Linked DNA regions of Homo sapiens. The protein of the gene in region 3 interacts with the protein of the main gene of each other region in a biochemical or structural test. Each region holds a gene or a part of one and is shown on either strand. Other genes may lie near its edges.

Region 1 (3,149 bases), on a different chromosome or scaffold from region 3:
TGGGGCCTAGAACCAATGTGCTCTGATGTGACCATATTCTGTGACATTACCTTGCCCTGTTTACTCCAAAGTTCCCAGCCTGGTGCCCAGCAGGCAATATTGCACCTACAGACACATTTACTTTGGTTTCCAAAGTGTTTTTAGACATTTGAATTTGTTGCCAACATTTAAACATTGAGAGATTTCATATTTTTAAAAATCTGGAATTCTGGCTTCTCTTGAAAACTCAGAAATTCTGGCACTATGGGGCTTGCATTCCTGCATGGCTGGAGCTGAGTTGCAGCTGCCCCTTTAGGCCTGTACTCCTTATTTGCTATAGGCTCCGTCTTGTATTACACTAAGCCCATGTCACCCATTTGGCTCCTGCAGGCCTTTGGGTTTGAGACCCTGGTCTACACACTTGGAGACCACCTGTTGTAAAGTACATGGATGTGCTTTGGTCAAGGAATAGACCAAGGTGGATATCCAGGCCAGAGTGACTCAGCGAGTTTAGGTCACAGGCGTATACTCCACTTGTTATATAACCTGCTTGTGTAAGTTCATACTTGGCTCAAAGCCACTATTGTTTGGAAAAGGTATAACTGCCCTGCTGACGCTGTACAGATGTTCTTGGGCTCGGATGGGCATGGCTCCACGTGGTGTGCACTAGCACCCAGAGAGAGTGAAGCTATTGACCCCTGTAAGGGAGAGTGACCATCTGGCAGATAGATAGAGGGGAGCCAGGACATGGCTCAGCTTGTGCCCAGAGGGAGAGTTAAGCCGCTGACCCTGTAGCCAGGGAGTGCACCTGCAAGCATGGGGGTGGCAGGAGCCACAGAGCTGGCTGCTGAGAGGAGCTGCAGATCTGGAGAAGACAGCCTAGGTAAAGGTGGACAGTGTGAGAGCTGCTGATGAGATAGCTGCTGAATAAAACTACATTTTACCTGCCTATGGCCCGCCAGGTTTTCTTTCAGCTATCGCCCATCCACCCAGTCCCCTCGAACCTCAGCATGGGCTGGAACCTGACCCTGGGCATGACATTTGGCATAGTTGTGGACCTGACACCTGTGTTTGTCCTAGTCCTGTTTCTCCCTGCCTTCCTGTTCCTCTCGCTGCCCTCATGGTCACTCCCAAGAGATCCAACCCATGTTAAGTATGGGCTGGAGGACTGCATGAATGCCTCATGATCTTCCCAGAGGCAAAGGCACCTACTGCCTTCCAAGGTCAGTGGGAGGTTGGGATCAACACTGTTTATTATGCTTAGGACAAAAAAGATAGGGAGAAAGATGTGCAACCTTACAGGTCATCTTTCTGGGATAGAACACAATGGGTCTTCTCCTGCCTCCTGGATATGTTAGTCAAGGCCAGTCCATGCTACACATCTAGTCTGACTTCTAAAATAGAAGCACCAGATGAATTCAGCCCTGAGAGAATTTTCAGCAGCTGTGGGGGCGCTGGAGGAAACACTATTAAATAGTTTTGCACCTGAGACAGATAGCCTCACTCGCCTCACCCTAGTCCTGGTGGCATTTGTCTCAGGTGCAAAATTTAAGAAAGAAACCTTGGAGTGCTCACCCTGTGGCTGGGTAGATGGTCCTAAAGTGGTGGTTTTCAAGCCTGAGTGTGTATCAGGATCATCAGGGGAGCTTGCTAAAGAGCAGTTCCTGCGGTCAGACCCTCATGCATTTTGAGCAGGTGTGGGGACTGGGAAACTGCATCTGTAACCTGCTGTAATCTAACGCTTATCTAAATACTACTGTGCTCACACAGAGAACACCGCAAAAGTAGAGGTGTTCCTCCAGAGGGCAGGTGAGCAGATGGCACAGTCTGCTTGGAATTCAGTCAGGTGATGAGAGATGAGATGAGGCACTCCTAGCTTTGGGAAGAGGGAGCTGAAAGATGAACCTTTGCAGGTGCCCACGGTCAAAGTGGTGGTTTAATGCCATGCCATGCCCATTTTCTGTTGGCCTTGGCAGGGAGTTACAGCCCTACCTTAGGACCTGGCTCCTTATTTCTGCTGTAGGCTCTTTCCTGCCCTGGCCGAGATGGAGTGGAATGAGACCTAGAAACATCAAGCTAAATACATGTCCTCAGAAAGATAAAGGTTTACATTTTCACCCCCATCAAATCTGAAAGCTCTCTGCCTGTGTTTTTCTAAGGGATAGGGACATCATTACTCAGTCCACAACCTGGACTCATGTAGGGTCCCCTGTCAGTAAAGGAGTCAGTCAAGCCCACCAGGTATACCAAGGACTCTTACCCTCAGCCCCTACTCCTTGGAAAGCTGCCCCTTGGCCTAATATTGGTGTTTAGCTTGAGCCTGACTCCTTCTCAACACTAAGAGCTGATGAAGTCCTGAAGCAGAAAGAGCTCTGACCTGAGAGTCAAACATCCTTATTCTGATCTCAGCTCAGCCCCTGATTTGTTGTGTGACCCTGGATATGTCACTTCCTGTCTTTTTGACTTTTTAAAATGAAGGGTAGACTAGAGGAGAGCTTCTAAAACTTTAATGTGGTCAACGAAATGGAATAGGAAATTCCACAAGTCTGTCCTTCCACAAAAGCAGCAAATAAGGTGGCAAAAACTCAAATTTATGGGAACTCTGGAAACGAATTGAAAGTTTACAGCAATCAGGTGAATACCTAAGAATAAAAGCTGGATTTAGTAAGAGAGCTTTGTTGTGTTTTAGCTTACCCTGGCCCCATCCCCCACTCCCCAGCATGGCAGCAGCATCAAAAACAATATCCCTCATTCCCTGTATAGGTTCCTGTCACTGGAGGTAGCAGATTAGACCTTATTTTCAAGAAGTATGTTGATTTTGATTTGATTTGTTGCTCCCTGAAGGACTGGTTCAAATGCCTTTCTTTTATTTTGCCTAATTTGGAGCTCTCCTAAAGTGAAGATGGCAGCCTGGAAAGACGTTTCAAGGTCAGTGTATTAGTGGCTCATGCCTAGGGGAAGGAATAACATTTGGAGCAAACAGGAGACAAATTGAAAAGCTTCAGGAGGAAAGGCTAGGAAATAAGATTCTTTGGGTGAGAATAAGGACTTTAAAGAGATTCCACATATTCCTGGGAATCTGAAAGACCATACACATGCCTAGGGCTGGGCATGTGCTTAAAAAGACTTGAGAGGGCCCTATGCTGTCACCTCTGCCTGACCTTCAGGCT
Region 2 (5,424 bases), on a different chromosome or scaffold from region 3:
TGACAGGAGTGGAACAGTAGACCCACAAGAATTGCAGAAGGCCCTGACAACAATGGGTAGGTATGGCTTACTAGAACTCTCCATTCATTGGTAGAAGTAAGTTGATTTTTATTTTTAAAACCAGGCTGGGTGCAGTGGCTCACACCTGTAATCCCAGCACTTTGGGAGGCCAAGGAGGGTGGATTGCCTGAGCTCGGGAGTTCGAGACCAGCCTGGGCAACACAGTAAAACCCCGACTCTACTAAAATACAGAAACATTAGCTGGGCGTGGTGGCATGCACCTGCAGTCCCAGCTACTCGGGAGGCTAAGACAGGAGAATCACTTGAACACAGGAGGCAGAGGTTGCTGTGAGCCGAGATCACACCACTGCACTCCAGCCTGGGCGAGAGTGAGACTCCCTCTCGTAAATAAATAAATAAATAAATAATTGCTACCTGAAGGCAGTTTCTGTTTTCTTAGAAATTGTGTGTGTTCATAATTAATATGAGTCTGCAGTCTTAAAAAATAAAATAGTGCTTGATTATTTTATTTTTTAATGAGCTTCTGCAATCCTTTAACCTTTTTACTGGATGGCTTTTCTTTTAGGATTTAGGTTGAGTCCCCAGGCTGTGAATTCAATTGCAAAACGATACAGCACCAATGGAAAGATCACCTTCGACGACTACATCGCCTGCTGCGTCAAACTGAGGGCTCTTACAGGTGAGTTCTATAAGGTCGTGTCATCACCACAAGCCAAGACACAGTTTTTATTACATTTCATCTCTCAGTGCTTCTCAACTTTTATTCTTCCCAAATTTTTTCTTGCTTTAGTAGTTTTTTTCAGATTACTATTAAGCATATCTGGCAAAATAATTTTTTGGTTTTTTTTCCAGAATTTATTTTAGATTAGTAAGTAATCTGCCATTAAAATAAACAATTAAATTTTACTAAAATGTTCTAAAACACAATCAGCTAACTTGTGCATTTTTGATCAGATAATAATGAATTTTTCCCCAGAATGTGAAATATTTGGAAAGAGTGAAATTAAAATAAAATCCTTTTCTATAGGGCAGAGCTGAAATGGTAGAGAAACTGATTACAGCCCATTTGTTATATTGGGGACTCTTTATCTGTTTCTTAAGCAGTATCTTTGTTATTAAGAAGCTAGAAATTCGGTGCTTTTATCACAATGAAGTAATGGCCATGGAAGTTGCACAGCTTTTACTGACTTTGGGTAAGGTATTTTCTCCAGATCTAAAAAAACAAAAAAACAAAAAACACAGCTGGCCAACTTCTGCCTGTTACTTTGTTGCATATTAAATCTTTTACTATTCATATAGTTGGCTTCTTTGCTTTGGTCTTTTGTTTATGTTAATTGGTTGCACAATTTAAATGTTACTGCAATGTGAATTCAATGCCAAAATAACTAACTTTTATGATTTTAGAAAAACCATTTAAAGAAAAACCATAAATTTTACTGTGTTGTTTTACAGACAGCTTTCGAAGACGGGATACTGCTCAGCAAGGTGTTGTGAATTTCCCATATGATGATGTAAGTCTTAGAAATTAAGAGATACAGTAGATGAAAAGGATGTACACCAGATGGGTATCCCTTTGAAATTAGCTGTTAAGAATATCTTAAGGTTAAGGATGCCAGAGACATAAGGGATTCAAAAGTTAGAAAGAGTTATCATCCAGAATTTATTAATTTCATTTATTAGTCTTAACTATAGTGAGACCATGATTTGATTTGCATTCAGAGACCTGGGTTCAAGACCCAGCTTGTTGTATTTATTAGCTGGGTCACTTAAGCAGGTTTCTTAATTGCTGTGACACTATATGAATAAAGAAGATATAGTAGTAATGCCTTTTTCACTGAGCCATTGTAAGATTTCTATTAGAAATGCCCTTGAAAAACACTATGCAGATATACTATCTGCTTTTGTCTTCTGTAAACAAATCATGTCAGTCACTGAGAATAGATAACAGCTCAATAGTTTTGCATACCTATGTTCTTCATTGAGGGCATAAGGCAGGCAACAACTTAAATCACAATTTTTTTTTTTTTTTTGAGATGGAGTCTCGCTCTGTTGCCCAGGTTGGAGTGCAGTGGCGCAATGTCAGCTCACTGCAACCTCCACGTCTCGGGTTCTAGCGATTCTCCTGCCTCAGCCTCCTGAGGGACTATAGGCATGTGCCACCATACCTGGTTAAGTTTTTTTGTATTTTTAGTAGAGACGGGGTTTCACTGTGTTAGCCAGGATGGTCTCGATCTCCTGTCCTTGTGATCTGTCCGCTTAGGCCTCCCAAAGTGCTGGGATTACAGGCGTGAGCCACTGCTCCCGGCTAAATCACAATTTAAAACAAGTTATTTACTAAACAGCCAAACTAAACAAGGGTAGGGTAAGGCCATGTAATCAGTGTGAACATAACCTAGTGCCATCTTTGATGGCATTAGCTGGATGTATATAACAAAGCTAGAGAGATTGGTTACTTGTTTCTTCAGTTTTTGCTCAGCCATTGATTTAAAAACAAAAAACAAACAAACAAAAAAACTTGTAGAATTGAAATGACTGTAATCACTGAATATTCCATTCTCCATTACAAAATATAAGATGCATGTATTTTTGGTTTAGCAGCTGCTGCAGTTATAAGTACACTTTTAAAAGCTTAGTATGTGTGTGTGAATATGCTTATTTTACCTGCTTAAGGGTGTGTTCTCTTTAACATGCGTTAACTTCTTAGTTGACAGTCCCCTTGCTGTTTCTAAAGATCAGAAGGCTGCCTGGGGAATGGAAAGAAAGACCATGGGCTTTGACTTCAGATGGGGCTACTTAAAAGATTTCTAAACATCCTGATCCTTATTTTCCTTTTCTCTAAAATAGGGATAATCACCTTGACCTTGCAATAGAGCTGCAAGGGTTAGCAGTGCACAATACCTTAGTAGTGTAGGGAACACTGATAGAGCAGAATCTATTGCTTTATGTTTAGCGGGGAAGCCAACATTTCACAGCAAATACTGGTATTTCTAATCTCAGGTATCTGAAGGGTTAGCTGTTCTGTTTCTGTGCATACATACACTTGCATGCTACAATTTGTTTTAATAAAGCAGATTTTAAGGCAATAAACTGTTTAAGGTGTTCCATTAGAGTAATGGGGTAATACTGTGTGGTTTGGAAATCCCCACGTAATACAACAGTATAAACTCCAGTTGTTTGTGTTTGTGGTAAGTGTCTTTGACCACGGCCATTTCTAGTCTTGGATATTATTTGGAATTTAAATAATTATTCAAATAATTATTTAAATTATTTATCCATTGAAGTTATATCTGCTTTCTCTAAGAAGTTTTGATGTGAGAAACCCTGTGGATTTTATATTAGACTGCTTCCCTAAAAAAAGGAAACTTTTCCATCTATCATTTACTCATATCTTAGAAAGTTGTAGGGGTTGTTTTACCCGTGTTCAAATTAGAAAACCAAATGTAAGCTGCCAGAAATAGGCTGTGCCGTATAAGTGCTTTGAGGTCTGTCATATAATGCTGATTTTTCTTTCAGTTCATTCAATGTGTCATGAGTGTTTAAATCAAGAGGAAGCTGCATGAATGTAATCAACATTCCAACTGGAGCTCTCCTTTGCTTGTCCTCTTTGCCTTCGGTAATATGTATAAACTTACATCACGACTTTCTCTTAACAGCTGTTGTAAAGTTTATTACTTTATGTACAACTGAAGTTTTGTTTTAGTTTTGATAATAAATTCTTTGGAACTTTAATAAGATCTAGTCTGTTACACCATTTAGAACTTTCCTGAGCCATTATCAGTCATGCCTTATTTTCTTGCTAAAACTCTATGTAAATTTAAGTATGCAAAATGTTTAAGTCACATTATTTATTTTTCATTGTGAGACACTAAAAACTGTTAATCAGACTACAGCTGTTATCTTTCCTCTCCTACAAAGAATACTCCACACATAAAAACTTAGGTAAATGACATAGACGCACTTGGGTGAAATAAAACAACAAAAAAGGTAATCCAGTAATCCACGTCAGGATTCACCTTAGAAGTTTAGCACACGCCCTTCAAAACCTGTTGAATAATTTGATTGGCAAATACTATCTGTCACCAAGTCCCTTTTTGTCATCTATTTAAACCTTTGTTAACTCTCCTTAAAAATCTTGTACATTATAAGCTTAACTATATAAAAAGAAAATTGATAGAAAAAGACTAAGGGAATATATGGAAATATTAACAATGTTTATTTTGGATGAATGGAATTCTAGATGACTTTAATTTTCTTTATATCAGTATTTTTCAGATTTTCTATATGCTTTCCTTTTAAAATCAGATTTTAGTTTTTAAAATACTGATACATCCATTTTGATATACCATGTATTCACACTTTAAAAAATACACATAGCAGAGTATCGGAAAGTATGTACCAAAACATTGATCTGGCTACCACTGGGAGTCAGGATCATGAGTTCATCTTCTTCCTTCTTACTGCTTTTCCAAACATTCTCCAGTAAGCAGGTACTACATTTATAATGGAAGGAATTTTTTAAAAAATTTTAAGCTGTACACTTTCAAGTAAGATCTGAATTCTAATGCTGGCTTGTGCCTCTTACTATGTGGTTTGGTCATTATAGATAATGCCCAGTTTCAGTTTCCCCATCTTTGAAAAGGAGATAATATGTTATCTCTTGGGAGTAGTTCTGAATATGAAGTGTGTTGATACAAGAAGCACTGACAATGTTTCTGTTTCTTAAATTTAAAACTGGCCTGGTTTGCCTTTTTTATCAAGAGAGCTTAACAGATAAAAAATGAAATTAGTCTATTTTCTACTTGCCAGCAGAGTATCTGTCTTATTTTAGGATGCAGTGTGAAACTTACCATTCAACTGAACAACTAGTTGTCAACTAATGAAAATAAAACATTTTCTCTAAGCATCTTTAGCCTCATTTCACTATTAATTTTTTAAAATATTGTTAAAATATATATTATTCAAACCTAACATATAACTATGGCAAGTTAGTTAGCCCAGGTTACATATCAGAATGTGAAGCAGCCTGCTATATATTACACAGTGACTATAGATTGCATCATCTCCGTATATTGTCTGTGAGGCCATAAAGCTCTGCTTGAGTCTGGGCTATCTAGAAAAGGGCCAAAAAGGGGCTCAGAGGATTAGGAGGCAGGGAGCTCACCTTCAGTGTCCTAGCACCTGCTGTTTGGTTTCAACTCACCAGGGTCCTCTGAGGAAATCATAGTTTAAGGAAATGGTAATTTCCTGGTTGAGGATAAGCAGTAGAGAAGGCCCTTGCTGAAGGATATGGGCCATATTTGAACAAGTCCCAAGGTGTGCTGCATCAGTTGTGGTTCTGAATTGGCTTTGGGGTGAATACAAAAGCATCCCTCTGACATTATATTAGTTTGTTCGCACACTGCT
Region 3 (3,900 bases):
CATTCATTCAGTTCCTTAGAAGGAGAAAGATCCTAGAGCGGCACTGTTCAGTATGGTAGCCACTAGCCACATGTGGCTGTTGAGCACTTGAAATGTGGCTAGTCTAAACTGAGATGTGCTAAAGTTAAAATACAAACCGATTTTGAAGATGTAATGTGAAATATATGTATATATAAAGTATCTCATTAATACTGTTTAGTATTGGTTACATTTTGAAATGATAATGTTTTCGGTAAATAATATGTTAAAATTAATTTCACCCTTAAAAACATTTTTAATATTACTAGATTTCTATTAGACAGCACTATACAAGAGGAAATCACTGGACTTGAAGCTTTAAATGTTTAGCACACATCTAGCAAACGTCTGTAGCCTTCTGTACACCAGGCATATGGTACTGGGTGAGAGTCTTGGGGAATAAAACAGAATCAGACATTGCCCATGAGGAGCCCACAGACTAGCCAGACGGGGTGGGTGTCTGTGTTTTTGGTTTGGTTGAAGTTGAGTTGACCACTTTATCCGCTGTTGATTTTTGCTTTGGCTAGGTGTCTGCCTGTATCCCAGTGTTCAGGCTGGCTAGACGGCGGAAGAAGATCCTATTTTACTGTCACTTCCCAGATCTGCTTCTCACCAAGAGAGATTCTTTTCTTAAACGACTATACAGGGCCCCAATTGACTGGATAGAGGAATACACCACAGGCATGGCAGACTGCATCTTAGTCAACAGCCAGTTCACAGCTGCTGTTTTTAAGGAAACATTCAAGTCCCTGTCTCACATAGACCCTGATGTCCTCTATCCATCTCTAAATGTCACCAGCTTTGACTCAGTTGTTCCTGAAAAGCTGGATGACCTAGTCCCCAAGGGGAAAAAATTCCTGCTGCTCTCCATCAACAGATACGAAAGGAAGAAAAATCTGACTTTGGCACTGGAAGCCCTAGTACAGCTGCGTGGAAGATTGACATCCCAAGATTGGGAGAGGGTTCATCTGATCGTGGCAGGTGGTTATGACGAGAGAGTCCTGGAGAATGTGGAACATTATCAGGAATTGAAGAAAATGGTCCAACAGTCCGACCTTGGCCAGTATGTGACCTTCTTGAGGTCTTTCTCAGACAAACAGAAAATCTCCCTCCTCCACAGCTGCACGTGTGTGCTTTACACACCAAGCAATGAGCACTTTGGCATTGTCCCTCTGGAAGCCATGTACATGCAGTGCCCAGTCATTGCTGTTAATTCGGGTGGACCCTTGGAGTCCATTGACCACAGTGTCACAGGGTTTCTGTGTGAGCCTGACCCGGTGCACTTCTCAGAAGCAATAGAAAAGTTCATCCGTGAACCTTCCTTAAAAGCCACCATGGGCCTGGCTGGAAGAGCCAGAGTGAAGGAAAAATTTTCCCCTGAAGCATTTACAGAACAGCTCTACCGATATGTTACCAAACTGCTGGTATAATCAGATTGTTTTTAAGATCTCCATTAATGTCATTTTTATGGATTGTAGACCCAGTTTTGAAACCAAAAAAGAAACCTAGAATCTAATGCAGAAGAGATCTTTTAAAAAATAAACTTGAGTCTTGAATGTGAGCCACTTTCCTATATACCACACCTCCCTGTCCACTTTTCAGAAAAACCATGTCTTTTATGCTATAATCATTCCAAATTTTGCCAGTGTTAAGTTACAAATGTGGTGTCATTCCATGTTCAGCAGAGTATTTTAATTATATTTTCTCGGGATTATTGCTCTTCTGTCTATAAATTTTGAATGATACTGTGCCTTAATTGGTTTTCATAGTTTAAGTGTGTATCATTATCAAAGTTGATTAATTTGGCTTCATAGTATAATGAGAGCAGGGCTATTGTAGTTCCCAGATTCAATCCACCGAAGTGTTCACTGTCATCTGTTAGGGAATTTTTGTTTGTCCTGTCTTTGCCTGGATCCATAGCGAGAGTGCTCTGTATTTTTTTTAAGATAATTTGTATTTTTGCACACTGAGATATAATAAAAGGTGTTTATCATAAAAAAGAAACAGTATTAGATTTTGGTCTCCATAATCTATTTTGGTATTGTTACGAACATGGATATGACAACCAAACTGGAAATCAGAACACTAGGGTAAAGTGGATATTGAAATGAAGCAAGAATATTGTCACACATGTGTTGTGCATCTTGTTTAGGGTATATTTCTTAATGTCATCTAGGTCATTAGTTTTGTTAATATTTGTGTTGTCTTGACCAAGCTCCTACTAAGTATAGGACACAAATGTTTTTTATCTTCCAAGGCCTGGCTCAAATGCCACTGCTGCAAAGCTTTCTTTGACCCTCTGGCCACCTCCCAAGCCAGAAGTTATCTTCCCCCTCCATGTACTCTAGCCTTTTCATGACACTGATATTTTCGTGACACTGACTTATAGTTCACTGTTTACCTGTTGGTCTAACAGCAAATCATAAACAGTAGTTTTCAACATACTTCTAAGGCTAAATTCATTTCCAGAAGTAGCAAAGCTTACTAGCCAAAGGCTCCACATTTATCAACTCTTAAGAGCTAGACTTGAGAGCCTAACAGCCTATATGATTTTGTGTAAATTGATCTCTATACCTCAGCTTCTTCATCTGCAAAGTGAGATAATTGTACTATTCTACTTTCCTCATAGTGCGGTTATAACAGATTATGATAATATTACAAAGTACTTAATACTTGGCATATAGTATATATATTAGCTATTAGTATTTTGCAATTTGGGGATATTGAAAATTAGAAATTGCATGTTAGTTCATGCTGCACTACCATATTGTTCTTTTGGGGCTCTTCAATGGGTGAAATTCCATTTTACAGTTTATCATGTGCATCTGTATCACAGGAGTATTTTGGCAAAATGATTCTGTACCAAAAAGGAGTACTATAAAATGAGGGTGCCAAATATATTGAGTCTTTTATGGGATTAAAAGTTCTGTTGCATTCCATTTTCTTTGGCATTGTGAAAGCTTACCATGTAGTACAGAAGGTATGATTTGGTTCATGTGTTTCTGAGAAATGCAGCCTTTCCAGGAAGCCTGGTGGCTCTTACCATGGAGTTTAGCACAGATAGACTTGGCCACACTGTGACCTACAACATGGTGCTTACCTTACTAAGCAGCACTAAACATTTGCATATTTGACCATTTTTATGCAAATCCTTTCAAATGGACTACATGGGTTCATGGACCCTGATTTTAGCTTCACTTCATTGTCCTAAGCCGGAGTGAGTGACAATAAGATTTCACAGGTCTGGGAGGGATGGAGTCCTGCCTGCCATGAGCTTCCAGCTTCTGACCATTAGTTCCTGGTTCCTGGACCCTAGAATGGAACTTTGCCCTTAAGAAGTGTTCACACCTTCCAAAACTAAGCTGAAGTTAGGGAAAGTAGAAGCATGAAACATTGAAGGTGAATTGTTGGGGCCTTATCCATAGTAATTCTGGTAATTACTTTGTGCAGGGCAGGAAAGGAGATACATACATAGCAGATGCTTAATCCTCAACAATTCACTGAGATGTAGGTATTCTTCCCTTTTAGATGAATGTAGTTAAGCAAGTTGCCTGCGTCCCATGGCCTTGAAGAATGGACAGAATCTCAAGGCCCTCTGATTCCAAAGTCCAACCACTTTACTATTCTTCAGTCTGCCCTCACCCTAACCAAATTCTTTGTGTAATGTTTTTTCAGTACAACTCCCTCTGCAGCACTGCAGTTGTAGTTGTACAGGTCTTTGGGTTTAGAAAGACTTTGCTGTTTACTGTCCATTTGCCTCTTCCCATCAGTCTTCCGAGGTGAGTATGATTATCCCCCATCTTACACACAAGCTCAGAGAGGTGAAAGACTTGCCTGAAGGCACACAATTGAAAAGTAACTGAGCCAGCATTTGGCCCTTAG

Evidence for each region. Proteins that work in one complex are often made in the same cells at the same time.
Region 1: the proteins of ALG2 (region 3) and ANXA11 form a complex in vitro, tested with the Homo sapiens proteins (one study listed by BioGRID).
Region 2: the proteins of ALG2 (region 3) and SRI form a complex in vitro, tested with the Homo sapiens proteins (one study listed by BioGRID).

The regions. Positions count from the first base shown.
Region 1 is NC_000010.11:80,150,389-80,153,537, reverse strand, and holds the end of ANXA11 (annexin A11), read left to right. Parts: 3' UTR 1-2,649; downstream 2,650-3,149. UniProt on the Homo sapiens protein: Binds specifically to calcyclin in a calcium-dependent manner. Required for midbody formation and completion of the terminal phase of cytokinesis.
Region 2 is NC_000007.14:88,204,615-88,210,038, reverse strand, and holds the end of SRI (sorcin), read left to right. Parts: coding exon 1-56; intron 57-586; coding exon 587-700; intron 701-1,473; coding exon 1,474-1,532; coding exon of another isoform or gene 1,533-1,550; exon of another isoform or gene 1,551-1,844; intron 1,845-3,534; coding exon 3,535-3,561; 3' UTR 3,562-4,924; downstream 4,925-5,424. UniProt on the Homo sapiens protein: Calcium-binding protein that modulates excitation-contraction coupling in the heart. Contributes to calcium homeostasis in the heart sarcoplasmic reticulum. Modulates the activity of RYR2 calcium channels.
Region 3 is NC_000009.12:99,215,482-99,219,381, reverse strand, and holds the end of ALG2 (alpha-1,3/1,6-mannosyltransferase ALG2), read left to right. Parts: intron 1-545; coding exon 546-1,448; 3' UTR 1,449-2,957; downstream 2,958-3,900. UniProt on the Homo sapiens protein: Mannosyltransferase that operates in the biosynthetic pathway of dolichol-linked oligosaccharides, the glycan precursors employed in protein asparagine (N)-glycosylation.